Linked DNA regions of Homo sapiens. The protein of the gene in region 3 purifies or fractionates together with the protein of the main gene of each other region. This does not show direct contact. Each region holds a gene or a part of one and is shown on either strand. Other genes may lie near its edges. The genes, in order: SERPINB12, TKFC, BLMH, PES1, ARG1, SETD7 and GTF2A1.

Region 1 (3,500 bases), on a different chromosome or scaffold from region 3:
ATTCTCCCATGGTTCTGGGGGACAAACGTCCAAAATCAAGATATCAGCAGATTTGGTTCATTTCAAGACTCTCAAGGAAAATCTGTTTCATGCCTCTCTCTCAGCTTGTGGTGGTTGCCAGCAAACTTTGACATTCCTTGACTTGTAGACAAATCACTCAAGTCTCTGCCTCCATCTTCACATCCTTCTCTTTATTGTCCATGTATGTATCCAAATTTCCCTCTTCTTTTAAAGACAGCAGTCACTGAATTAGAGCCCATCCTAAGCCAGTACAACCTCATCTTAATTTGACCACATCTGCAAAGACCCTATTTCCAAACAAGGTCATATTCACAGGTAGAAGGATTAGGACTTAAACTATATTTTTAGGGGACATAATCCTACCCACTTTGTGGTGGAACTCCCTGTATTCACGTAAAATGAAGCCAAAGGCTAACATTCTTATTATCAAGTTAGCAGCCAAGCAAACATCATCCCATCTCATTCTTCTCCACAGATTGTGGCTGGTTCTGCTTACACCTTTTGCCTGTACTCTCCCCTCATTGCTCTGTGACTGAGGATATGCCCAGCAAATTCCCATGGGTCATGTGCCTTGTTAACATTCTCACCCCCTTTTGACTCATCCCACATGCAAACTACAGAATTTGAGGCACTTTAGTCAGTCATTCATATTGTTCAAGAGACAATAAATCTTGAATGATGCTGGGGGTCTTGATGTCACCAGGTGTACTAGTCCATTTTCACACTGCTACAAAGAATACCAGAGACTGTGTCATTTATAAAGGAAAGAGTTTTAATTGACTCACAGTTCCGCATGGCTGGGGAAGCCTCAGGAAACTTACAATCATGGCGGAAGGAGAAGGAGAAACAAGTACCTTCTTCATTAGGCGGCAGGAGAGAGAGAGAGAAAAGGAGGAACTGCCAAACACTTATAAAACCATCAGATCTCATGAGAATTCACTCACTATCACAAGAACAGCATGGGGGAAACTTCCTCCATGATCCAATCACCTCCCACCAGGTCTCTCCCTCAACACGTGGAGATTATGGGGATCACAATGTGTGATGAGATTTGAGTAGGGACACAGAGCCAAACCATATCACCAGGTTCAATGTCCTCTTTGACAGTGTAGAACTACAGATAATATAGAACCAGAGTGAGATAGTGACTTCCTAAGAACAGGTATCTTGCCTTCCCCACCCAATCTATTCCAGAGTATCAAGAGAATATGTAGATCTCACCACTGACCTATGCCTTTCAAATGAAATGCCTTTTCTTTTGTCTCTTTGCCTATAGATATTGTGTATTTCCAAGATAGAAATGTAAATCCTCTTATTTGTGCTTTTATCATCAGATACAGCACACCATAAGCATGAAGAAATATTGCTGCATTGAATGGAATGGTGTAATTTGTTTTAACACTTTCCCAGTTAATATAGATTTTCTTAGCCTATAAAACCTAATTCAAAAAGATAACATTATGTAACTTTTTAAAAAATGTGTCTAACATGTGCCAAATATCTTACATGTGTTAGCTTTAATCCTACAACTCTGCAAGGTAGATATGATCATTCCTTCTTTTTCAGAAAAGAAAACTGCATAATCAAATAGCACATATATTTGGCCCCAAACTAAGTAATCTTTCTACTGTATCTATCGTTTCTAAGTTGCCCCTCAACTGATGATAGGTGATCAAACACATGCCTGCTGTATGTGGGTACTCTCCCCCCTTATTCAGCTTATAGTCCATTTTATTGCTACATTTTCTTTCTGCCAAGTTTGTACCTAACTCACAGTTCTTATCTTGCATCTGGGAACTGGGTTTGAGACGTACTTTGTATTTTCAAACTAATTTCAGGGTAATCATAGATCACCAGAGTGTTTTCAGGAGCATTATGCCTTAATTGGTGGGTGTTTTTTGAGTAATGGATGTCCTGGATGTATCTGGAAATTCAATAATGCCTCACAACTCAGAAAGCTACCTTTGCATATGTTGGTAAACATCTTGATGTCCAACAGATTTTCTCTACACATAGCTCACATTACCCATCTAGTAACAAGTCTACTAACAAAGAAAAGAAAACCAACAAATTAAAGATGGTCTGAGTTGGGGGGATTTCACAGGCTTTCGATTAATGATAAAATTTTGTGTGAAATGTAGTCTAATATTTTTTAAAACCTTTGTTGTATAACTTAGGTTAATGTTTGATCAAAATCTTCAGCTCGAAGGAGGAGAAGGTAAAGGGAATCCTGGCAATTTGGCCATCACTATTAAAAGAAGACAAGAGCCTGACTATATTGAAGGAAAAGAAGGGGTTGGTTAGAAAGACTGAATGATCCCAACCTGGCTCTTCAAATGTTCCAGTTAATCACTTGGCTTCACCCCTTCTGCCTTCTAGCATGAGCACTCCCAGAACTGAATGATCAGAGTCTTGCCTGCTTTAGAAAGGACATGACTACTCATGCAGGCCAACTCCCTACTTCTCAAGATAAAAAAAACTGAGGCCAAATGAGGCGAAGTGACTTGCAACAATCATGCAGCTGTCCAGAAGCAAAGCAAGGCTAAGACTTCCTCATGCCTAGGGCTGCTTCCTCCTAGATCACACAGTTTTTCACATTCCATTCCATTCTAATTCTGGCACTACACTTACTCACTCTGTGGGCTACAGAACACTCCAAAACTCTCTCTGCCTGTTTCTGCATCAAGCTTCTATAAACTTTGTGAACTACTTTCCAGGAGTACTGTGATGCTCTCACCCCAGTAACAATTCCCTTTTCTGAGTGTTACCTGGTTCTAAGCTTTCATTACAGTTGTGTGCAGCTTTAATGCTGCCTCACCTCCCAAGGGAGTTGAGAGAACAATAGTAACAGAAAACAACGAAAAAAAAACAGCTGGACAGTTGCTGTTAAAGTTTTATGACTATATGTAAGCCCTTACAATAGGAAGATCTTTCCTGGCTTTACATACAAGTCTAAAACATAGCAAATAATGAACATTTAATGACTAGATTAAAATGTCATCTGCTAACCACCTTCTGAAGGGTTGCTTGGTTATTTTGGGGGGTGGGGGTGAGTCAGTTTTTTTAAATTAGAAACTGCCTAAATCTGACACCAACCTAATTATGAAGTTCTCCCACTGGGTTAGTCACTATATATAAAAGATGAACTGAACAAGACACAATCTCTGCCTTTGAGAAATCTATGACCTAACAGAGCAGATAATGCATTCGCAGATTCAGGAGTAGAGTTTAAGACGCATAGAAGAGTAAGATATTAATTTACAAAATGAAATAGAAAAGGGAAAAGAGTATTTTGTAGGAAGCACTCATTAAGATTTGATTATGCTAATAACACAGATTCAAATAGGCAATTTTAAAATATAACACTTTAAAAATACTTTAAAGCTTTTTAACATTGCTTTTATTTATTAAAAATAAGCTTAGACTGTTAGTAAAAATCATGTTATGTTATGTTGTTGCAATTAAAAAGAAAAGAGAAA
Region 2 (3,257 bases), on a different chromosome or scaffold from region 3:
GGACATCTCCCTCCCGACCTCAGAGCCCCAGCTTCCAAGGTCCTTGCTTTTCTGTTGTTTTCTTTCCCTGATGCCCATTTTTCCCTTTTGGACTGCCACACTCTGGTATTGCAGAGGGCCGCGGGGTGAAGATTGCCCGTGCCCTGGTGGGCACCTTCATGTCAGCACTGGAGATGCCTGGCATTTCTCTCACCCTCCTGCTGGTGGATGAGCCTCTCCTGAAACTGATAGGTGAGACTTGGAACCTGGGGTCACCCAAGCCAGGGCTCCTTGTAACTGGAAGGAGCCAGGGAGACTTGGAGACCCCGTCAGGGCTGACCGTGACAATCAGGGCTCTGGAGCCTGTGAAGAAGGCTCTTCCTGGGCTTCTCCAGCCTTCTCCAGCTCTCACTGGACTAGAAGGAGTTGGTATTAGGATCCTCCTCAGAGAGGCCTGACCCTTTCCCAGGGACCCTCTCTCCATACCCCTGTATACAGTAGGCACTCAGTCCATGCTTGTCGAGGTGGACTCCCTTCCTCCAGGGCTGCTGAGAAAGCCAGGCCACCAGGGTCAGGATGGGAGGGTCCAAGCCCTGCTGAATCCCTGGCTGGACAGCCGTGTCTAAGAGAGTTATCTTGCTGCCCTTAGATGCTGAAACCACTGCAGCAGCCTGGCCTAACGTGGCTGCAGTCTCCATTACTGGGCGGAAGCGGAGCCGGGTAGCCCCTGCCGAGCCCCAGGAGGCCCCTGATTCCACTGCTGCAGGAGGTACCAACCCCTGCCTTTGGGGAAGGGACAGGCTTCCCAAAGGATGCAGGAGTATACGGTGGGGCGGGTAGGGGCCCTGGCACCCACACCTCCCACCATAGTCAAGTGTGGTTGTGAGAAGGGCCTGGTGGGCCTGTTCTTCAGCATCCTCCCTTTCTAGGCTCAGCCTCGAAGCGGATGGCGCTGGTGCTGGAACGGGTGTGCAGCACTCTCCTGGGCCTGGAGGAACACCTGAATGCCCTGGACCGGGCTGCTGGTGACGGCGACTGTGGCACCACCCACAGCCGTGCGGCCAGAGGTTGGTGCCAGGGACTTTGCCAAGTGAGGTCATTCACAAAACCTTAGCCCCCCTTCCACTTGTTTCCCTGAAGGCAGGGACCTTCCTTTTTTTTTTTTTTTTTTTTTAAGAAGGAATCTCACTCTGTCGCTAGGCTGGAGTATGCAATGGTGTGATCTCGGCTCACTGCAGTCTCCGCCCCCCGGGTTCAAGTGATTTTCCTGCCTCAGCCTCCTGACTAGCTGAGATAACAGGCATGCGCCACCACGCCTGGCTAATTGTTGTGTTTTTAGTGGAGACGGGGTCTCGCCATGTTGGCCAGGCTGGTCTCTAACTCCCCACCTCAAGCCATCCGCTCGCCCTGGCCTCCCAAAGTGCTGAGATTACAGGCATGAGCCACCACACCCGGCCGACAGGGACCTTCTTAACACCACAAATGTATGAGGTTGTTATCTTAGAATTAAATGAAATCCTTCACAGTGAATAACTTACAACTCAAGGCGAACTTATTCTGTTGTCCTTATTTTTCTCAGTTTACCCAGACCAGTGAAAAGCTCTTAACTGTCCAGCATCATTCATTCGAGAAAAAGGTATTTGGTGCCTGCCGTGGGGCAGGCACTGCTCTCAGCTGTGGATACAGTAGTGAACAGAGCAGACAGAAATCACTGCCCTCATGGCTTATGTTCTAGGTGGAAGACAGTCAACCAGATAAATCAGTAAAACACAGAGGATGTTAGCACAAAGGGCTAAGGAGAAAAAAACCAAGCCAGGGAGCAGAGTACAGAGCGTCAAGTGGAGGGCTTCGGGGCAGGCCTCACCTCCCCAGGCCCCTTTCGGTTACGCAGCCCAGCCCCTCTCCAGACTGCACACTGGATGTGGAAAGGGATCTTGGGAAGCCTTCATTCCACTTCCCTGTCGGCCTTTTCCAGCCTTCATTGGTGCTGGCTGGAAGTCTGGCAGATGGAGGGAGGATCTCTGAATTCCTCCCCATCTCTCTCTGCCTGCAGCAATCCAGGAGTGGCTGAAGGAGGGCCCACCCCCTGCCAGCCCTGCCCAGCTGCTCTCCAAGTTGTCTGTCCTGCTCCTGGAGAAGATGGGAGGCTCATCTGGGGCGGTGGGTGCCTGGGGGCTGAAGGGCTGACAGGGAGGTGGCTGGGCTGGCTGGGGTCCAGGCCAGCACCACATGCTCAGCGTTGTCATCTTCCCCAGCTCTATGGCCTGTTCCTGACTGCGGCTGCACAGCCCCTGAAGGCCAAGACCAGCCTCCCAGCCTGGTCTGCTGCCATGGATGCCGGCCTGGAAGCCATGCAGAAGTGAGCCAGAGCCCTGTGCATCAGACCAGGGGTGGGCTGGGGGAGGTGTTTGGTGACATCTGCGCCCTGCCAGGCCCTAGCCCAACCCTCAGAGTGATTCCCTTGGTTCCCTATAGTGAGCCTCTTTCACTCTCTTTCCCTGCCAGGTATGGCAAGGCTGCTCCAGGGGACAGGACTATGGTATGTACTCAGGCTGTGGCCTCAGACCTTTCTCCTTTTGGCCCTGTAAGTCTAAAGAGCACCCTCGGTTGCAGGGCCCGTGCTCAGCCCCCTTTCCTTCACCTTGTCCAGCTGGATTCTCTGTGGGCAGCGGGGCAGGAGCTCCAAGCCTGGAAGAGCCCAGGAGCTGATCTGTTACAAGTCCTGACCAAAGCAGTCAAGGTGAGTGAGGCTGGGCCCAGCCACCTGGGGAGACAGGCTTCTAGCCAGCAGACTCCTGTCTCCATGTGACCCTGAGCAAGTTAATAACCTTCCTGGACCGCAGTTTCCTTCTCTGTACAATGGAGATGAGCACCTATCTCAGAAGGTGGTTATGTGGCTAAGGAAATATGTAGAGCCCCGCACACTGCCTGGGATGTGACAGGGCCTCAGTGAATGGTGACCCTTTTCCCTGCTGGAAGTAGATGAGAAGTGACTTTCCATTTGGTGACAGAGCAGAGGGTGCTGGCAGAGCCAGGGCAAGGGCGTGCAGGGCCAGGCTGCACGGCAGAGACGTTCTGCCCATGGCAGGAAGGAGGCGGCCTGGTGATCTGCCCTTGAACCTGCTCCCACACCCCATCCCCCAGAGTGCCGAAGCTGCAGCCGAGGCCACCAAGAATATGGAAGCTGGAGCCGGAAGAGCCAGTTATATCAGCTCAGCACGGCTGGAGCAGCCAGACCCCGGGGCGGTGGCAGCTGCTGCCATCCTCCGGGCCATCTT
Region 3 (3,500 bases):
ATATATTGTTTTCAATAGCTGACAGCCACTGCTATAGAATTTCCTAAGTCAATCATAAAGGCTTCTTTTCCCTTTTTGTGGCACTGACAAATATTGGTTTTGGTCTTTGATTGACTGATCGATTGATTTTAGAAATGAGGTCTCACTAGGTTGCCCAGGTAGCACTTGAACTCCTGGGTTTCTGGACTCAAGTGATCTGCCTTAGCCTCCCAAGTAGCTGGCACTACAAGTGTTACCACCATGCCTGGCTATGTTTTGCTTTTTAACAGACAAGGTTTTTTTTTTTTTTTTTTTTTTGAGACAGAGCCTTGCTCTGTCACCCAGGCTGGACTGCAGTGGCACAATTTTGGTCTCCACCACCTGCAGGGTTCCGGTGATTCTTGTGTCTCAGCTGCCCAAGCAGCTGGCATTATAGGCATGCACCACTATGCCCAGATGTTTTTTTCGTATTTTAGTAGAGACGGGGTTTTGCCATGTTGGCCAGGCTGGTCTTGAACTCCTGGCCTCAAGTGATCCATCTGCCTTGACCTCCCAAAGTGCTGGGATTATAGGCATGAGCCACTGCGCCCAACTGAGAATACATTAATAATCTTAAGGGGATCCGCAGGCTAAAAAAATGGACACTGAGATAACATTGCAATAGAGGTAACTACACATCTCCAAAACAGATCTGCCTTGCCTGTCATCTCAACAAGCAGCCTGCGTCTCACTTCTCAGTAAGAATGCCTTTAGCATAAACACATTTTATTCAAAGCTATCTGAGCTTCACGGCTGTTGATTAAGCCATCATTTTGACTTGCCTACAAGGTTACACAAATCATAGGTACTAATTTGGGGCTTTAAAACTGCAGCTAGACTCTTCATTACCAAAGAGTCAGGTTCAATGAAAAGAAGTCATTTGGGGGATTGTAAAAATTTTAAAACCTTATACACAGGGCCAGGTATGGCGGCTCACACTTTATAATATGCACAATCTTTGGGAGGCTAAGGTGGGAGGACTGCTTGAGCCCAGGTGGTGGAGATCGGCCTGGGAAATATAGTGAGACTGAATCTCTACACAATTTTTTTAATAAATGAGCTGGGCATGGTGGCATGCACCTGTAGTCCCAGCTACTTGGGTGGCTGAAGCAGCATTTGAGCCCAGGAGTTGAAAGTTACAGTAAGCTATGACTGCGCCTCTGCACTCCAGCTTGGGCAACAAAGCAAGACTCTGTCTCTAAGGGGGAAAAAACCCTTACACACAGAATTCTGTAGTAAATAGTTTAGGTAGAATCATTAAGTAAATAATCCTATAAAACATTCATACTCAGGATTTGGTAAAGTTGGATCTACTATTTCTCTGAGGCAGGAGTAGGGGAGGAAAAAAATATGTGAAACATATCTGCCCTAATTCTTACCAGCCAATTACCACGCTCTACCAATGATGAGGACATCAATCTTAGACACATCATTAGTTCAAAGATCATTAAAGCAAACATCAAAAGCCAAAAGGATGCTTATTATCTACAGCAAGTATTATCTGGGCCCTTTTCCACAACTGTTTGCAGAACCTTCATTCCTACTATACCTCCATCTTTTTTTTTTTTTTTTTTTTTGGAGACGGAGTCTCACTCTGTCACCAGGCTGGAGTACAGTGGCACAATCTCGGCTCACTGCAAGCTCTGCCTCCTGGGTTCAAGTGATTCCCCTGCCTCAGCCTCCCGAGTAGCTGGGACTACAGGCGCATACCACCACGCCCAGCTAATTATTTGTATTTTAGTAGAGACGGGGTTTCACCATGTTGGTCAGGATGGTCTTGATCTCCTGACCTTATGATCCGCCCACCTTGGCCTCCCAAAGTGCTGAGACTGCAGGCATGAGCCACCGTGCCTGGCCCCCACCATCTTAATCTAACCCTAAATAAAGGCAAATTATGTAGCAGATATAGCCTCTGCAAGACAGTCATTCCAAGCAAGAAGGGAAGAAGTAACATTTACAGAACTCCTGCTACGTGCCAGGCACTATGCCTTGCATGCTTACATTTAATCCTTGATTCCCCAAAAATCCAATAAGGAAAATATTTCAGATCCTGACTGAATCTCAGACAGGTTAAGTAACTTACCTAGGATCACAGACTGTTAAGTAAAAGAGTCAGAATTTAAACCCATGTATGTCTGACTCCAAAGCCTATTTTTTCCTACTATACTAAGATGCCTCTCTTCTGTAAGAATTTAAGAGATAAAAATGAGATTATTTAAATGCATTTGGTAAATGAAATTTCTGCATTCGTCCACTCAACAAATACTTAAGAAACAGCTATTGTGCCAAGCACTAGGCTAGACATGTTAAATATGAACTGAGCCTTTAGAGCTTAAGGAACTTGTCCCAGGATATAAAGTAATGAGAAGACTAGAGCTCAGATAGCCTGACTTCAGAGATTACACACTCCACTGCTCCACTATGCTGCATCTCTAAGATTTAAAGGAAAACACAAGTGAAGCATTAGTGTTTTCCATCGCAGTGAAAAAAAGTAGGCCATTTTAACTCCATACAGTCTTGAAAGGAAGCCTAATAAAGGGCCTACTGGCTGACAAACGGAAACATTTATTCTTTCCTCAAACCAATTGCAGTTTTATGCATATTCATTCTGGACATGGATAGTATTAATAATAAAGTTTCTTAACTGTCTTGATCATAAATAATATTACCACCTCATATTTTAGTGCTTTTTACATTTTCTAAAATGTTTTTACATACATTAACAAATATAACCATCAATAGCTCCGTCTTTATTTCTACAGAAAGAAGCCAAATGTTCTGGCATCGATCCAACATCCCTTACATCTCTGCCTTTCTAGCTTAATTTGCTACCCATCATACTGAAAAAAGTTATGTTTCAGCCACATGATTCCCTGAAGGTTCTATCTTTGTTTATGGCACTGTTCATACAATTCCTTTTGCCTAGAATGGTCTTGTTATCTACCTGGTAAATTCTGACTACTCTTTCAAGAGCTATCTTCCCTATGAAAGCTTCAGCTCACTGAGCTAGTCACTCCCTCCTCTATGACCACCAAATCAGTTTTTACACATCTAGCATAGGATTTATCATCATTATAGATGTGTTTTCTTTTTCCCAAGAGACTGAGCTCTTTAAGAGCAGTGACTATGTCTTTCTCATCTGTTTCCTCAGTGCCAAACTCATAGAAGGTATTTAATATTTATGAAATGATAAAAGAATGATTATACAGACCACTAAACTACGAATTAGAAAATCCAAGTCCAAGTCCTACACTAAAAGGCAAAGTAAGTTTTAAGCTCAGTTTTTTCAGTGTAAAATAAGTAATTTTCAATTCAATTAAACATTCGTTGCCATGACTAAAGCTTCCTAATCATTACTTTAACAGATGGGAATATTCTGAGAGTTCCTTAGAGGGGTCACAAAAAAATCCAAATTTTGTTATTACCTCCTCCATCATGACGTCCTGTGTGGCCGAGATTTCTCCTTTGGTTGCTCCACTGTG
Region 4 (2,893 bases), on a different chromosome or scaffold from region 3:
GCTTATGGGGGCAGGTTCTCCCGACCTCCACAGTCCTCTGGCTCCTGACCTTCTAGGCCAGAGCAGGCACCAAGCAGGGCTGCTTCCCAGGCCAAGCCCCGCATTGCAGCTCCCCCTACCTTCCCCTCCATCCTCTGCTCTTCCAGGGCTGCCAGCCGGGCCTCTTCCTCCTTTTCTGAACCAGCCTCTGCATCTTCCTCCTCCTCCTCATTTTCTCCCTCTTCATCACCATCACCTTCGTTGTTGTCGTCCTCTTCCTCCTCCTCTTCTGACTCATTCAGGTTTCCTAGAGAAAGCCAATGTCCTCTGAATGCCCTGGGAATCTACTGTCTCTCTGGCAGGGTGACAACAGGCCCAGGCCCCATCCTCTCTGACCCTGCCGTCTTTAGCCATGGGCAGTTCAGGGATGTCCCAATTGTGGCCCTCTCTTGCACCTCCCCACAGCCCAGCTGCCATCAGAGGAAATTCCAAGACCCCCAGTCCTGAGCTCTGTCGCCTCCAATGTAAACTCTGATGACAATGCAGCATGTTCTTCTGCTCAGTCATCCTGAACGTCAAATAACACCTGACCCCAGGAGGTAGATGTCCCTTCTCCTAAGCCTTATTCTACAGGTGACTTCAAAGGGCTTTCTGCTCCTACTGCCTGTTCCCTGGAGCTTTCCACCTTGGCAGCTAAGGGAAACAGCCAGCGTGGGCCCAGGGGTCAAGGCCAGCCCAGTCCCATCCCGCTCACCTGGGTCCTCTCCCCGCTGCAGAGCCAGCAGCTTCAGCTTCTCAGGTGGAACGTAATCTCCTTCCTTCTCGGTCACAAAGGGTGAAAGGTGTGGGGGCAGCTGCACCCCAGAGAAGTACTCTGCCACGGGGAGAAGGAGCCTGGCGTTCACTGAGTCAAACACCCACTGGGGCTGCACGTAGCACCTGGCGCAGAGTGGCAGGCAAAAACGAGTCACAGAGGGCAACTCAGGGTCCTGCTGCATCGCAGGGCCTTTGAGACAGGATACCCAGAAATCCGGACGAGGACCCTTGAGGGCCTACCTGCCAATGACTGAGGTCTGCTGCCCAGGCCGGTCGACAATCTGATGGGTGATGCGGGAGTCTGTGACGTCATAGGTGGCCCCAATGCACAAAGATTTGTCCCAGGACACTTCCCCACCAAAACTCCTACAGGGACAGGGAGAGCCCACACGGGTACACAGACATGAGCTGCCTGTCCTGAGACTCAGCTCCCTGGGACCTGCTGGCCACCCAGCCCATAAACTCACCCTCTTAGGACACAATTACCCCCTCCTCACCCCAGGATCCTTCAATCCTGGCTCAGCAGAGATCTGCCCACTGCCCATCCTTCTGTGCTAAGCTAGTAATAAAATGACGGCAGTTCCGCCCTCTGCTGAGCACTTCCTATGTGCTCAGTGCGGTGCCGAGCACTTTCCACACACTGTTTCATAAGAAGTGGAAACTGACACCATCCCAATGTTACCGATGGGCACCAGGGCAGGACCCAGACCAGAGCATGGCCGAACCAATGCTGTCAGCGGGCCCTTGAGCCTCCCTACCTGATGATGAAGGCCAGGGCCTCACGGGGCACCTCTCGGTTCAGGAAGAACTTCAGGCCCTCAAAAAGCTTCTTGTGCTTCTCCTGCGCCTCCAGCTCCTTCCTGCGGTCTTCCTCCTGCGCTGACATCTCCTGTTGAGAAAGGGGCCAGGCCTCGCACCACCAGGGCTGCCCACCCCCACTGGAGGGCCAGGGCTGGAGATAACGTCCACTCCAGCTTCCTTCTAGATCCTGGATCCTGCCTTCAAAGGAAACTCCAAGGCCCCACTCCTGAGCTCTGTTGCCTCCTATGTAAACTCTGATGACAATTCAGCCCATTCTTCTGCTCAGTTGCTTTGACCATCAAATAACACCTAATTATAGGATGCAAATGTCCCTAAGCTGGGAAACCCCCCACACGACCCCTCCCAGCCCTCCTGCCAGAAGGCAGTGCAGTGCTCACCCCATCGGTGGGAAACTCATCCACCTCGGCCTCCTCCTCTGTGGCAGGCACCACCACGCGGGCCAGGCTGGCACTGAGGGCTGCCAGTTTCTACAGGAGAGAAGGGGGCTGCTTGCAGTGGGGGACCTCATGCGGGCATGTGGCCAGGGTGGGGAGGGGCAGCAGTGACAGTCCTGGGCATCAGCAGGTGTGGGTTCCAAGGGCAGGCTGAGACCACCCACCTAGCCATAACCACCCCCACTCTGAACCAGACCCCCAGAGGTGTTGGGGACAGAGACCACTCCCTTGGGAGATGCCGGATGATGCTCCTGGAGCCTCTCACCTCCATACAACTCTCGGAGTCCAACGCGTAGGTGCCCTCACCGGCCTTTGCCTCTGCTTGGGCCTGACCCTCGAGCTAGTAGGCAAAGGGAAGGTCAGGAGGCAGAGGACAGCCACAGCCCCTCGCCTCTGTGTGGACAGAGAAGGGCTGTGGCCCCTGCACGGCGAGCAGAAGGCACTGGGCTGGGGTCCTACCTTCGGGGGATAGTGGAGGTTGAGCAACTGGTAAAGGCGGAAGTTGACAAAGCCCAGCAGCGTGGTGTAGAACTCGGTGAAGGTGGCCATGACCCTGTAGTCCACGTCTGTCGGGTGCTGGGGAACACAAGAGATGCATGAGCAGTGTGGGTGCAGGGATGGGGGCAAAGGAGGGACAGACAACCCACAGAGTGGAGGGTGTCTGACCTACCCAAAGACCCCAAGCTCCTCAAGAAGGCTCTGCCCTTAAGGCGCTGCCCTAGGGAAGGGGTGGCATGGATCTTCCCACCAGGGGCGTTCCGGCCACAAGTGTTCCCAGCCACAAGTGAGGCTCTGGATAGGGGTCCCAAGGGTTAGACGCATCCTGGAAGTCAGTGCCAGAC
Region 5 (4,051 bases), on a different chromosome or scaffold from region 3:
GATTGGGCAAAAGCATCGAAAGAGTGTGACATGAAAGAGACCTACGTGCATGTACTCACATAAGTAAGCTAGAGCTCTTGGGGAGAAAGCAGGCAACAGAAAAAGTCATCATCTGGGAGCTGAAAACTACAAACAAAGACCAACCCAGTAATTTCAAGTTTTGGCCTGCTTAACAGTATGATGGGAAGTTCTACCCTTGCCGTTTTGACATTAGGGAAACTAACACTCTTCCTCCAAGGGGCAAGTCTTCCTCAGTCCCCTGAACAATTAGAGGTCTAAAGGCACAGTTCCTTTCTGTATCTTTCTGATTTTAATTTCCAACAGAGCTTTTAGATGCAGAAGATTATTACATGTTGTCAGATGAGACAATGTGTTAAAAGACACGTGTGTCTATCTTTAGGATTGGGGCTGTGGCATCAAAGTAAGCAAGTATTTTTTCCCCATTCAAAGGAACAGAAGACTTGCCCTGGGTGCCAGGCAAATCCTTGATGTTAAATTCCTGTCCCTGGCAGCAAGGGACCCGCCCTATCCTCTGCCTGACACATTTTGCTTCTTTACTCCCTTTTTGCTTGACACACCTGCCTCTCCCCAATCAAGTAAACATGATTTCTCCTTCTTTCAACCCCAATAGGGTGCTGCTTGGTTCATGTTTTGCCTTTAGTTTTGTGTCTGTTTTTGTCTTTTCCTCATTGTTAGATTTCAGTCCAGCTTGCTTTACATGTGGGGCACTATATTTTGTAGTGTAGAGCTGACATATAGTAGATACTCAATACTCAGTTTGATAAAACTCCTTGGCTTTTTTACCCTTCTCCCTTTCATATTTTAGAACAAAGCTCATAGACCCCTTAGTTGACACTATATTTGCTATAACACAGCCATTAAATTTTCTAGAATTCTTTTTTATTTGTTTTATTCAAATGGCTTCTCATGATTGGGCTTTCCTCTTGCTTGCTCTATCTGCCCACTTTGGAAATTGCTTTGTCAGCTCCACCGACTTTCTAAGCTGGGCCCAATCCCTAAATGGCCACAAGTATAAGGTCGCCTTTGGAGTTGAATAGTCTGAAGAGACATCAGTGCAAATCAAGGGCATAGGCATTGGAATCAGATTATCTTGTCTGGAATTATGCAGTCAAGGCTGTGTGACGTTGAGCACATTACCAAACCTCTCTGGGCTTTTTTTTAACCCAACTGTAAGGTAAAAATAATACCTACCTTATTGTTTGTTCGCTGCCTTGCAAGCCTTTCAAGGAGGTGAGACAGGGATGAAGCCCTTTCTCAGACTCAACATTTTAGTCATCTGCCCTCTAATCCTTTCCTTTTGCTTATTTGTCAAACTTGTACCTCCTTTAGGTGAGGACAAATACTTATATGTTGGCCATTTTATCCTCTCTACTCTATGACTTAGTGTAAAAAATCTCTCTCTCTTAGTCCTTACAATCATGAGACAATGAACTCCATTCTCATGACCATGTTTTAATGGGAGGAGGGTGGTAGAAGGAGGACACTTGCTTCCCTTTTGTGAGGTTTTTAAATTATATATTTATTATAACCTGTTCAAGAGTGGGTGAGAACAGTGTGGATTTTAAAAGGAACATTTCTGTGTCAGCAAAATGTCCCTGTGTTTGGGAGAGACTTTTGGAGGATTTCCAGGGGAAGCAAAGTAGTATTTACTGACAGTCCAAATGCAGTTTGGGCCTCTAACCTCTGGCCTCTCTCAATTTGTTTTGCAGTAAAAAGTCAGAGTACACAGCAAGGGTTCCAAATTAAGAGGAAGCAAAACGCTGCCCAGATCCTGAGAAACCTGGAGAAAATCAACCTTAGTAGTTTCAACTCATACATTGTCTTGTTTGATTTTGTTCTTTGTTTTTTATCCTCTTTAAGCACAGATGCGTGTTGAAGTCTAAGGTGTTCTGTCATCACACTCTCTTTACTAGAATAAGTGTGCCCAGGCAGAAAAAAAAGTGTATTCAATGTTGCTGGCATGTGTGGATTCACAGCTCGTGGCTGTAAGGAAATCTGGGGGTTTCATAAATCCATTAAAATCCTTTTAGAGTTGCCAACCCGCAGTAGGATTTTCTTTCTTTTTTTGTTCTTTTTTTCCCCTTCCAAGTGAGGCACATAAAGGATTCTACCTAGTCCATGAATGAACAGTTTCATAGAAACATTAAAACCCTAACATAACATGAATTATTCACAAAGTTGCATGAAACAATAATATTTAGGTTATCCAAATTATAAGAAGCCTGAAGGTTACCACCAAACTATTAAATTTTTCTAGGCATTAATTACATAACTAAACAAATGTATTTCTTAAAATTCTCTCTTCCTCTACATACACACAGTAACATCAAAAACAACAAGAGCAACTAAACCTCAATGAGTAGCTACAATGCAGAAAGAGTCCATTTCAATTCAAAGAAAAATATTTTCTCCTAAAAAATATGAGAAAACATTCTGTAGGTTCAAATGAATTTAGCCTTGGCTGAGATCACGAGCCACAAAAGTAAGTGGATATGTGACTATAATTATACAATGTTGGAAAATGGTGAGAGGACTTTAAAATATGCATTTCCTGGCCAGATTGTATCAGAAAACTGAACTAACTAGACAATAACACCTTACAAATTTTGAAGTCCAAAATTTTCAACTAAATTCCAGGAATTCAAAGAAAGACTTTTTTCCTTACCTGTCCCTTTGAGAAAGGAGCTCCAATAATCCCTATGGTTCTGGACTTGGCGCTCATGCTCTGACACTTCTCTTTGCTGCACTTGAGCTCTCCAGTCAGTCAACCCTCAGTGACAGAGGGCGCATCTTTTTTTTCCATTTATACTTGGGTTGAATAAACAACCTTTATCTAATGAGGACAGCTGGCTCCACCCACTAAACCAAAGAATGACAGTCAACAGTCTTGCAATTTTTCATACATGGAGTAACTATATGGTTACTCCATGTATGAAGTAACTATATGGGGTTACTTCATACATGGAGTAACCTAACTCTGAGTCTAGGTCTCTAATCAAGTGACAATTATTCATGTTCTCACTTCACACCCTTTTAAAAAGCCAGCCAGATGACATTAACCTGACTTCAACAACTGACAAGTTTCACAACTACAGAAGAAGTCCTATTGTTCTGGCTCAGCGAACTCAGGGCAAGGCCCTTTCCTCCTCCAGATCTCTGAAGACGTCCTTGTAGAAGAAGGGCCGGGCTTGGCAAGATCGTCTGTCACATCCCTTCCAGCCCTAAAATCCTGAGTTGAGATTTCACACATGAGGGTAAATGGTTAATCCATGAGACACATTTCATAAACTTTTAGGGTATAATATAATAAAGAGTATATAACTTCCTTTTTTGATGATTACTTTAAAAAATTAGTTACTTGATTGGTAACCCAGAGAGGTTACCATTTTTGAAGTATGGTGTACAGGAAAATAATTGTAGAATCATATCATAATCAAAGTATAGAAATAAAAATAGCTAACATTGAGTTTTTACCATGTGTCCGATGCAGTTCTGTTTCAAAATACCATATTTATATTTATACCAATTTTATGTGAAGTCTCATCATTGGTGCCATTATACTGATGAATAAACTGAAGCTCAGACCCGTTGCCAACATAGGCTGTAGAAGAAAAGTCGGGATTTAGTCTCTGCCATTCTGAATCCACTTAACCGTCGAGCTTATAGTCTAAATGCTGGGAAGGTGTCAACCTCTATGCCCCTGAGCTACCATTTGTCACCATACAAAAGTATGAATTTAAAATAAAGGCACCTTAAAGATCCTTCCGACTTTAAAATTATGTAATTGTAATTTAAAGGGAAAATTCACTTAGTAGAAACTAATTTCTTTTTCCTATTGGTGGGAAAGAACATTTTGGAATTTAAATTCCATGAGGTCAGAGAATTTTGTCTGCTGTATCCCCAGGGCCTAGAAGAGTGTTGGTGTATAATAGGCACTCAATAAATATTTATTGAATGGATAAATGAGGAAACCAAAGTCTCATGGGTCCATTTTGATAGGACTGTTTTCCAAATAGGTTTCCTACCTTTT
Region 6 (3,500 bases), on a different chromosome or scaffold from region 3:
TCAGCCTCCAATGTAGCTGGGACTATAGGTAGACATCACCACAACTGGCTAATTTAAAAAAAAAAATTTTTTTTTGAGACAGAGTTTTACTCTTTTTGTCCAGACTGGAGTGCAATGGTGCGATCTTGGCTCACTGCAACCTCCGCCTCCCGGGTGCAAGCAATTGTCCTGCCTCAGCCTCCCTAGTAGCTGGGATTACAGGCACCTGCCACCAAGCCCAGCTTATTTTTTTGTATTTTTAGTAGAGATGAGGTTTCACTATATTGGCCAGGCTGGTCTCGAACTTCTGACCTCAGGCAATCTACCCACCTCAGCCTCCAAAACGGCTAATTAAAAATTTTTTTTTATAGAGATAGGGTCTCACTGTGTTGCCCAGGCTGGTCTCAAACTCCTGAGCTCAAGTGGTCCACCCACTTTGGGTGCTGGGATTACAGGCAAGAACCACCACACCTGGCCTCAGTGCCTTTCAACAGGCAAATGAAGAGGAGCCCTATCATCATCTTAATCTCTTGGGAGAGACAAGGTCAGGGGAGAGCTACCAAATGATGGCCATTACTCTGGTGACCTTGCACATTAAGGAGGTGCTTGGACATGTGACCACTCCCTATCATTCTGAAGGCTTTTAGATTGCTGGTTGTGAGAGAATTCTGAAATCTATTCGACGACAGCAGGAGCCTCTTCCTGGCTTGTTTTGTTTTCTTTACATCCCTAGGGTGTGATCAATTAAAGGAACTAGAGATTAAGGGTTGTGATCATTCGAGACTTCCACTCTGAATATTTAATATCCCGGATTAGTTTTCCTAGCAGTAGAACTTTATGTCTAAAACAGCAGCCACAACCAAAACAATAACAGAGACTTTCCATGAGAAAGAGAAGAGACTAGGTTGCAGTGCTCTTACATCTTCTTTCAACATTAGTGCTAGAACAGAATCTGACATAACTTTTTCAAATGCCAATAAGATCATTAATATTTGGACAATAAGATCATGTAATATTTTGTCATGTCAGTAAGTCAATTTAATGCACAGGGGTACTGATAAACAGAGGAGAAAAAAAGTGTATGAATCTACTATGATCGGCATTGGGTTATATGCTTTCCTGTTATCAAATGTAAGCCTCAAAACAGTCTCCCATATTCTCATCTTACAGATGAAGACACCAATGCTTTATGAGACTTGCCCAAGAGACATTGCCACACTGAGTGTGCTGATGAATACTGAAAGCCCCTTCTCCAAATCCTTTAATTCCCATTCTAGACACTGGCAAACTAGTTGAACACACTCTTCCTTGGTGATGGTAAGAAGGTACCTCTAAAAAGGTAGGAACCCCCAGGTCCCTGGCAGGGAAGTGGAAGAAGGCTTTGTGGTTAAGATCATTCACACAGAACCACCAGGTTTCCAACAGCATGTCCCGGTTGCAAAGTCCTATCTCTTCCAAGTGTTATCTAACTTGAAGGGAAACACTAGTCCTCCTTGCTCTGCATGAGGTCAATTTGTAAAATGCGCCAAGTCAGCCAACAGCCTTCCAGGCGAGTTCCCACTGAACAGAGGGTGAATACCAGGCCCAAGCAACAGGGAAAATTAACTTGAATGACTGCTCTGTGTTTTTAAGGTTGCCGGAGCTAATGTTCTGTGTATCTGTCTGTAGCATGATTTTAAATATTTACAGAAGTTAGAGAAAGGAAAAAAGTATCAGTTCACAAGTCTACTTTTTCACTTTATTCTATGGTCATTATCTATTGAACAGATAGAAAGTTACAATTTTCCCCTCTAGTTACTTCTGAGGGAGCTTCTTCCTGAATCTGATAAGAGCCAGGCCTATATTCTAAGCAGCAATGTACATCTCAATCTCAGCAAAGTAAATTCCCTCTGGATCAGACACCCAGCTGCTTAATGTCTCAGGCTTACTCACAAGAGATCTGAGAGTGGCGTGTGAGTATTTCCCTTAGAACCAGAGACCCTACGCACACACTGTTGGTTTTGTACACTAGAACATTGCTTTAAAAAACAACAATTAATAGGCCGGGCGCGGTGGCTCATGCCTGTAATCCCAGCACTTTGGGAAGCCAAGGTGGATCTCTTGAGCCCAGGAGACCAGTCTGGGCAATACAGTGAGACCCCATCTCATTAAATAAATAAATAAATTGAAAAACAAAAAACAACAATAATAAAAGGCAAGCTTATTCTGTTTAATGCAAAGAACATGCCCTCCTGGTGATGCATTCAATCACCAACTCTTAAAAACATAACTTGATGTTTTGATCTTTTTAAAATTTTTTAATTTTTTAGGTTTTTAAAAAATTATTTCAACTTTTATTTTAGATCCGGGGGTACATATGAAAGTTTGTTACCTGGATAATTTTTTTTAAGGGTAATTGTTGGCAAGGGTTCATCTATTAATTGTGAGGGTCATGATTTTAATGTGTGGCCCACACAGAAAGGGTGCTACAAATACACTTCATATGCATTTTCCCTAGATACAGGGCATGAGCACTCTTAGCAGAGACAAGTAGAATCTGATATTAGGGGGAGTGTTAATAAAAAATATTCTTAATATTTTGAAGGGGTTGTGGCAGTGGAACACTGAGCTGCTTATTTTCATTCTGGCCCCTTGTTCTGATATTTCCCCTTTTTGATCATTCTTCCTCCATGTCTCCTACACATTTCCAGGCCCTTCTGTTTTTCCTGCCATCATAACTGTGCATCTGGACCACTGCAAAGAGACTTCAAGGTACCTCATCTGCTGTGTCAGCCCCTCTGACTGTCCTGCTGGCCACTGCCTGTTCCTCTTCCCGGAGTGGAGCCTTGATCCTGTCATTCCCTTTTCTAAAGAGCCCCCACGGCTTCCATGGCTTCCAGCACACAGTCCATGCTCTCAGCCTGCTACCCAGCCTCCTTTCCCTGTCTTCCCCTCCACTTTTCTCCTTGTAAGCTCCATGTTGCAGCAAAATCAAATGACTGTTCTCTGGGTGCACCCGCAGAATTCCATGCCTCCGTGTCTTCACTCACAAAGTTCCCCTCTCAACCTGACTCAGCTCTATGGCACCTCTTCTGGAAAATCTTTCCCCTTTGACTTCCCTAAGCTGGAACTAATTTTTACTTCCTCTCAACCATCACAATTCATCTGTATAGATATATTTATTTGAAATCATATTAGAGACCACATCATATTCATCTTTGTATCTATGGGTAGACAAAGAAATAGATGCTGTGATAAATTTCTGTTTCCAGATGCCCAGGGGAATAACACTGGAAAACTAAACATCACTCTTCACTGAACCAGTGTGTCTCAAAGTGTTTTCCAAAAGCCACACCAGAGCTCAGGTGGAGCTCTGAGGTCCTCTGAGGCCCAGGGCTTGCTGCCTTCTTCCCACAAGAGCACAGCCAACACAGTACACAGAACACTCTCTCGACACAGCCTCCGCCACTCCCCTCACCTCAGGGAATTGTCCACTCTGAGTTCAGAACTTTCCCAGAGTTACAATCATACCCTGACAGAGA
Region 7 (3,500 bases), on a different chromosome or scaffold from region 3:
AACAAATTAAGTTTTTCTGTAAGGAAATTAAAGTTGTGGTTTCAATTCCACTGAACTCAGACAAGACCCAAGTCTTTAATTACATTTAATAAGTATGAAAACCTAATTAAAATAAATATTCATTCCTGGGTCAAATTTTATCTCCAAACTATGATCACTGATAACTTTAAATCTTAAATAGATGTTTCATAAAGCTGGAAAGGAAGAGGTATATATCACTGAGGGAGAATAGCAAGTAAAAATATTTAAGACCTATTATGAGAGTTTTAAATTGTTTTCTTATACAAGTGAATTAAAATTCAACACAATTCTTACCCTTTTGTAAAAAGCTCACACGCAACTTTTACCAAATATAACCACATACAATAAGCAGTTTCAGTTCAATCTATCAAAAGGGAAGTTTCTTCAGTTCATTCCAACAAGTATCTTCTGATTGAACCCAAGTTGGAGGAAGGAATATAGACAAAGCTTTACATGCTAATTACCGGTGGCAGGTACCTGTATTTAAAATCAACAATTATGGTTTTCCTACACAAAACCCCAACCCTCCCACCCAAAAACCCTAGGTGCTACAGTTCCATGGCTTGCCAGTAAGTAGTGTCTATGTTGTCAAGGTCTATCTTTGTTCCAGTAGCTTTGCTTCTACTGCACTTTTCTGACATGCAGAAACGAAGTTTTGGTTGGCATATGCCCCAAGTTTCAAACTGTCCGCTTTACATTTTTTTTAAGTTTCTTTTATTTATAAAAGAAAAAAAGCAACTCTTCACCATTCTGCATCTCCAATGGCTTTGGAAAATATATAATCTCTTCCATTAAGATTCATAATGCCATCCTTGAGATGAAATTTCCATTTGTTTTTACTTCTGTGTATCTAAACAAAAACAACATTTTAAAAATTGAGAGATACAATCAGAAAACAGAGAAAACAAGTAACAAAAAACCCATACACACACACACGTACACACACACCCCCCCACAAAACAGTATTTACAGTATTGTATTTGCAAATTGGTTTGTTTTTGTAGAAGAAGGGTCTCCTATGTTGTGCAGGCTGGGCTCGAGCTCCTGGCCTCACGTGATCCTTCTATCTCAGCCTCCCAAAGTGTTGGGATTACAAGCGTGAGTCACAGCACCTGGCCTAAAAATTGGTTTCTTAATAAAGTTTAATTTCACCAAAAAGAACAACAACAACAAAAAAACCACACACAAAACTCACTAGGTGGGTCTAAAAACAAATTTATCTGTAATTAGTACTATTTTATAGCTTTTAGTACTTGTGTTCATTAAAGTAGTTAAAAAATATTTCTTTACAAAATGTCTTATCTCTCTACCAGGTTTGCATATATATTTTCAAGGTCTACCTCAAAAAGACTATCCTCCACAAAGCTTTCCCAAATCTTACCAGCTAAAACTATTCTTTTCCACTGTTAAATTCCCAATGGTATTTTCATTGACATTTCTTACATTATTTGTAAGTAATACAATTATGGACTCATTTCTTCTACCAAAATAAAACTCCTTATAGAGTTCTCAAGACCTAACTACCATGGAACCTTATACATAGCAGTATTTTAAAAATACATCTAAAGGATGCTAATCATCCAGTCACTTACACCAGATTTCAAAAACTATGTACATCCACAGTTAAACAAAAAGAGCTGAAGGGCAGGCTCTGGGCACTCCCATCTTTGCCTTCACTTATAGTCCGTAGTTGTTTGTAATTCCATGGATTTGGTGGGGGAGAGGAGTTGTAAAACTTAATGAACTGAAGTGACCTTTCTTCCTTTTCCCAGTAAGTCACACTAATTATTTAATGTTCAAGTTCCACATCTTCTGCAAAGAAGGCCCCCTGGTTCTCCCTATTCTATGATCTAAAGGTACCTAAAAAAAAAAAAAAATCAACTAGTTCAGGCTTTCATTTTCAGAAGAAGAAATGACAGATTGGATAGGGTTCAATGGTTTGACCAAGTGTATACTGCTACTAAGTGACAATCATGATTTTCAAGTCTTGGTCCAGTACGCTTTTACTAAATCAGTCTGTTTCATATAATAATGCAGAAATGCTCAACAGGTATAGATATTTTCTTTTTCTTTTTTTTCTTTGAGACAGAGTCTCACTCTGTTATCCAGGCTGGAGTGCAATGGCACGATCTTGGCTCACTGCAACCTCCCCCTCCCAGGTTCAAGTGATTCTCCTGCCTCAGCCTCCTGAGTAGCTGGGATTACAGGCACTCACCATCACGCCCAGCTAATTTTTGTATTTTTGTAGAGATGGGTTTCACCAGGCTGGCCAGGCTGGTCTTGAACTCTTGACCTCAGGTGATCCCCCACCTCGGCCTCCCAAAGTGCTGGGATTACAGGCGTGAGCCACTGCACCCGGCCAGGTACAGATATTTTCTGAGATCTCATTCCTAAAATTCCATGGCCTAACCTCCCAGTGCAAACATTCTTCATGACATATTCCTGGCAAATGGTTGTGCAGTGTCTGCTTAAATACGATTAGAAACAGTGAGCAAAGAATTTCAAATTAAGTTATTCCTTTTTGGAACAGCTCTCTTGTAAAATCTTTCAGAGTTTACCCTTACGGAAATCTGCTTCTCCAACTTCCATTTATTGATCCTAGCTCTGCTTTTTGAGACTTAAAAAAAAAAAATCACTCAATCAAACAACCTTCATCTTATTTGGAAACTACTCTCATGTTCTTCTTCTGGATTCAAACTTTGCTTACTTATTAAAGCAAAACAAAGCACAATAAAGGTAAAACAGCAGGTAGGGTAAAGACTGTTGGATTAAGAACTAATTATATCTCTGGTCTAAATACACTACATAAATGCTAAATGTAGCATCTTAAGATTGATGACTTGAATGTCTAACGGACATACCAGACTTGGCATGTCCAACCAGCTCCACATGCAGCTTTTCCTCATCTGAACTGATGGTATCACCATCCTTCTTTCAGAATCCTCATCAAAAAATCTCAAGAGTCATTCTTGATTCCTTTTTCTTTTCTACCACAAATCTCAGAGTCAGGAAATGCTGTTAACATTCTTCCTTCAAAACAAATCCAAAATCCAACTACTTCTCACCAACTTTAATACCATCACCATAGGCCGAGTCATCATTATCTCCCATGTGAATTATTATAATATCCCCCTAAATAGTCTCGTTTCAGCAACCTCTGCTTCCTCCTCATATTATGCTCTCTACAAAGAAAGCAAAGTAATCCTTTCAAAATTTAAATCAGTTCATACCATTTGTCTCACTGAAACCTTCCAATAACTTTCTGATTCACTTAAGAGTAAGAGCCATGTCCTTACAAAATCCTTACTATCTGCCTTCCCTTACCTCTCTACCTACTACTGTACTCTCCTCTTCCCTCACTCCAGTCTAGCCACACAGGCCTCCTTGCTGTTCCTCACATACAACAGACTCTGCCACCAGATGACAGGGCTAACTCTTTCCAAGTCTTTGCTAAAATGTCATTTTCTCCAAAGACCTAC

The links.
Region 1: the proteins of BLMH (region 3) and SERPINB12 purify together in Homo sapiens (affinity purification with mass spectrometry, with the first as the bait; one large-scale study listed by BioGRID). This does not show direct contact.
Region 2: the proteins of BLMH (region 3) and TKFC purify together in Homo sapiens (affinity purification with mass spectrometry; one large-scale study listed by BioGRID and IntAct). This does not show direct contact.
Region 4: the proteins of BLMH (region 3) and PES1 fractionate together in Homo sapiens (co-fractionation; one large-scale study listed by BioGRID). This does not show direct contact.
Region 5: the proteins of BLMH (region 3) and ARG1 purify together in Homo sapiens (affinity purification with mass spectrometry, with the first as the bait; one large-scale study listed by BioGRID). This does not show direct contact.
Region 6: the proteins of BLMH (region 3) and SETD7 purify together in Homo sapiens (affinity purification with mass spectrometry; one large-scale study listed by BioGRID and IntAct). This does not show direct contact.
Region 7: the proteins of BLMH (region 3) and GTF2A1 fractionate together in Homo sapiens (co-fractionation; one large-scale study listed by BioGRID). This does not show direct contact.

The regions. Positions count from the first base shown.
Region 1 is NC_000018.10:63,552,369-63,555,868, reverse strand, and holds part of SERPINB12 (serpin B12), read right to left. Parts: intron 1-3,500. UniProt on the Homo sapiens protein: Inhibits trypsin and plasmin, but not thrombin, coagulation factor Xa, or urokinase-type plasminogen activator. May play a role in cell differentiation.
Region 2 is NC_000011.10:61,343,228-61,346,484, forward strand, and holds part of TKFC (triokinase/FMN cyclase), read left to right. Parts: intron 1-114; coding exon 115-231; intron 232-628; coding exon 629-748; intron 749-908; coding exon 909-1,046; intron 1,047-2,032; coding exon 2,033-2,139; intron 2,140-2,234; coding exon 2,235-2,338; intron 2,339-2,484; coding exon 2,485-2,518; intron 2,519-2,629; coding exon 2,630-2,719; intron 2,720-3,067; coding exon of another isoform or gene 3,068-3,097; exon of another isoform or gene 3,098-3,123; coding exon 3,124-3,257.
Region 3 is NC_000017.11:30,281,945-30,285,444, forward strand, and holds part of BLMH (bleomycin hydrolase), read right to left. Parts: coding exon 3,444-3,500; intron 1-3,443. UniProt on the Homo sapiens protein: The normal physiological role of BLM hydrolase is unknown, but it catalyzes the inactivation of the antitumor drug BLM (a glycopeptide) by hydrolyzing the carboxamide bond of its B-aminoalaninamide moiety thus protecting normal and malignant cells from BLM toxicity.
Region 4 is NC_000022.11:30,579,018-30,581,910, forward strand, and holds part of PES1 (pescadillo homolog), read right to left. Parts: intron 2,628-2,893; coding exon 2,511-2,627; intron 2,392-2,510; coding exon 2,317-2,391; intron 2,085-2,316; coding exon 1,995-2,084; intron 1,685-1,994; coding exon 1,554-1,684; intron 1,162-1,553; coding exon 1,036-1,161; intron 919-1,035; coding exon 734-918; intron 287-733; coding exon 120-286; intron 1-119. UniProt on the Homo sapiens protein: Component of the PeBoW complex, which is required for maturation of 28S and 5.8S ribosomal RNAs and formation of the 60S ribosome.
Region 5 is NC_000006.12:131,571,975-131,576,025, reverse strand, and holds the start of ARG1 (arginase-1), read right to left. Parts: upstream 2,801-4,051; 5' UTR 2,744-2,800; coding exon 2,687-2,743; intron 2,061-2,686; exon of another isoform or gene 1,734-2,060; coding exon of another isoform or gene 1,731-1,733; intron 1-1,730. UniProt on the Homo sapiens protein: Key element of the urea cycle converting L-arginine to urea and L-ornithine, which is further metabolized into metabolites proline and polyamides that drive collagen synthesis and bioenergetic pathways critical for cell proliferation, respectively; the urea cycle takes place primarily in the liver and, to a lesser extent, in the kidneys.
Region 6 is NC_000004.12:139,549,720-139,553,219, forward strand, and holds part of SETD7 (histone-lysine N-methyltransferase SETD7), read right to left. Parts: intron 1-3,500. UniProt on the Homo sapiens protein: Histone methyltransferase that specifically monomethylates 'Lys-4' of histone H3. H3 'Lys-4' methylation represents a specific tag for epigenetic transcriptional activation.
Region 7 is NC_000014.9:81,179,460-81,182,959, forward strand, and holds part of GTF2A1 (transcription initiation factor IIA subunit 1), read right to left. Parts: intron 872-3,500; coding exon 764-871; 3' UTR 1-763. UniProt on the Homo sapiens protein: TFIIA is a component of the transcription machinery of RNA polymerase II and plays an important role in transcriptional activation. TFIIA in a complex with TBP mediates transcriptional activity.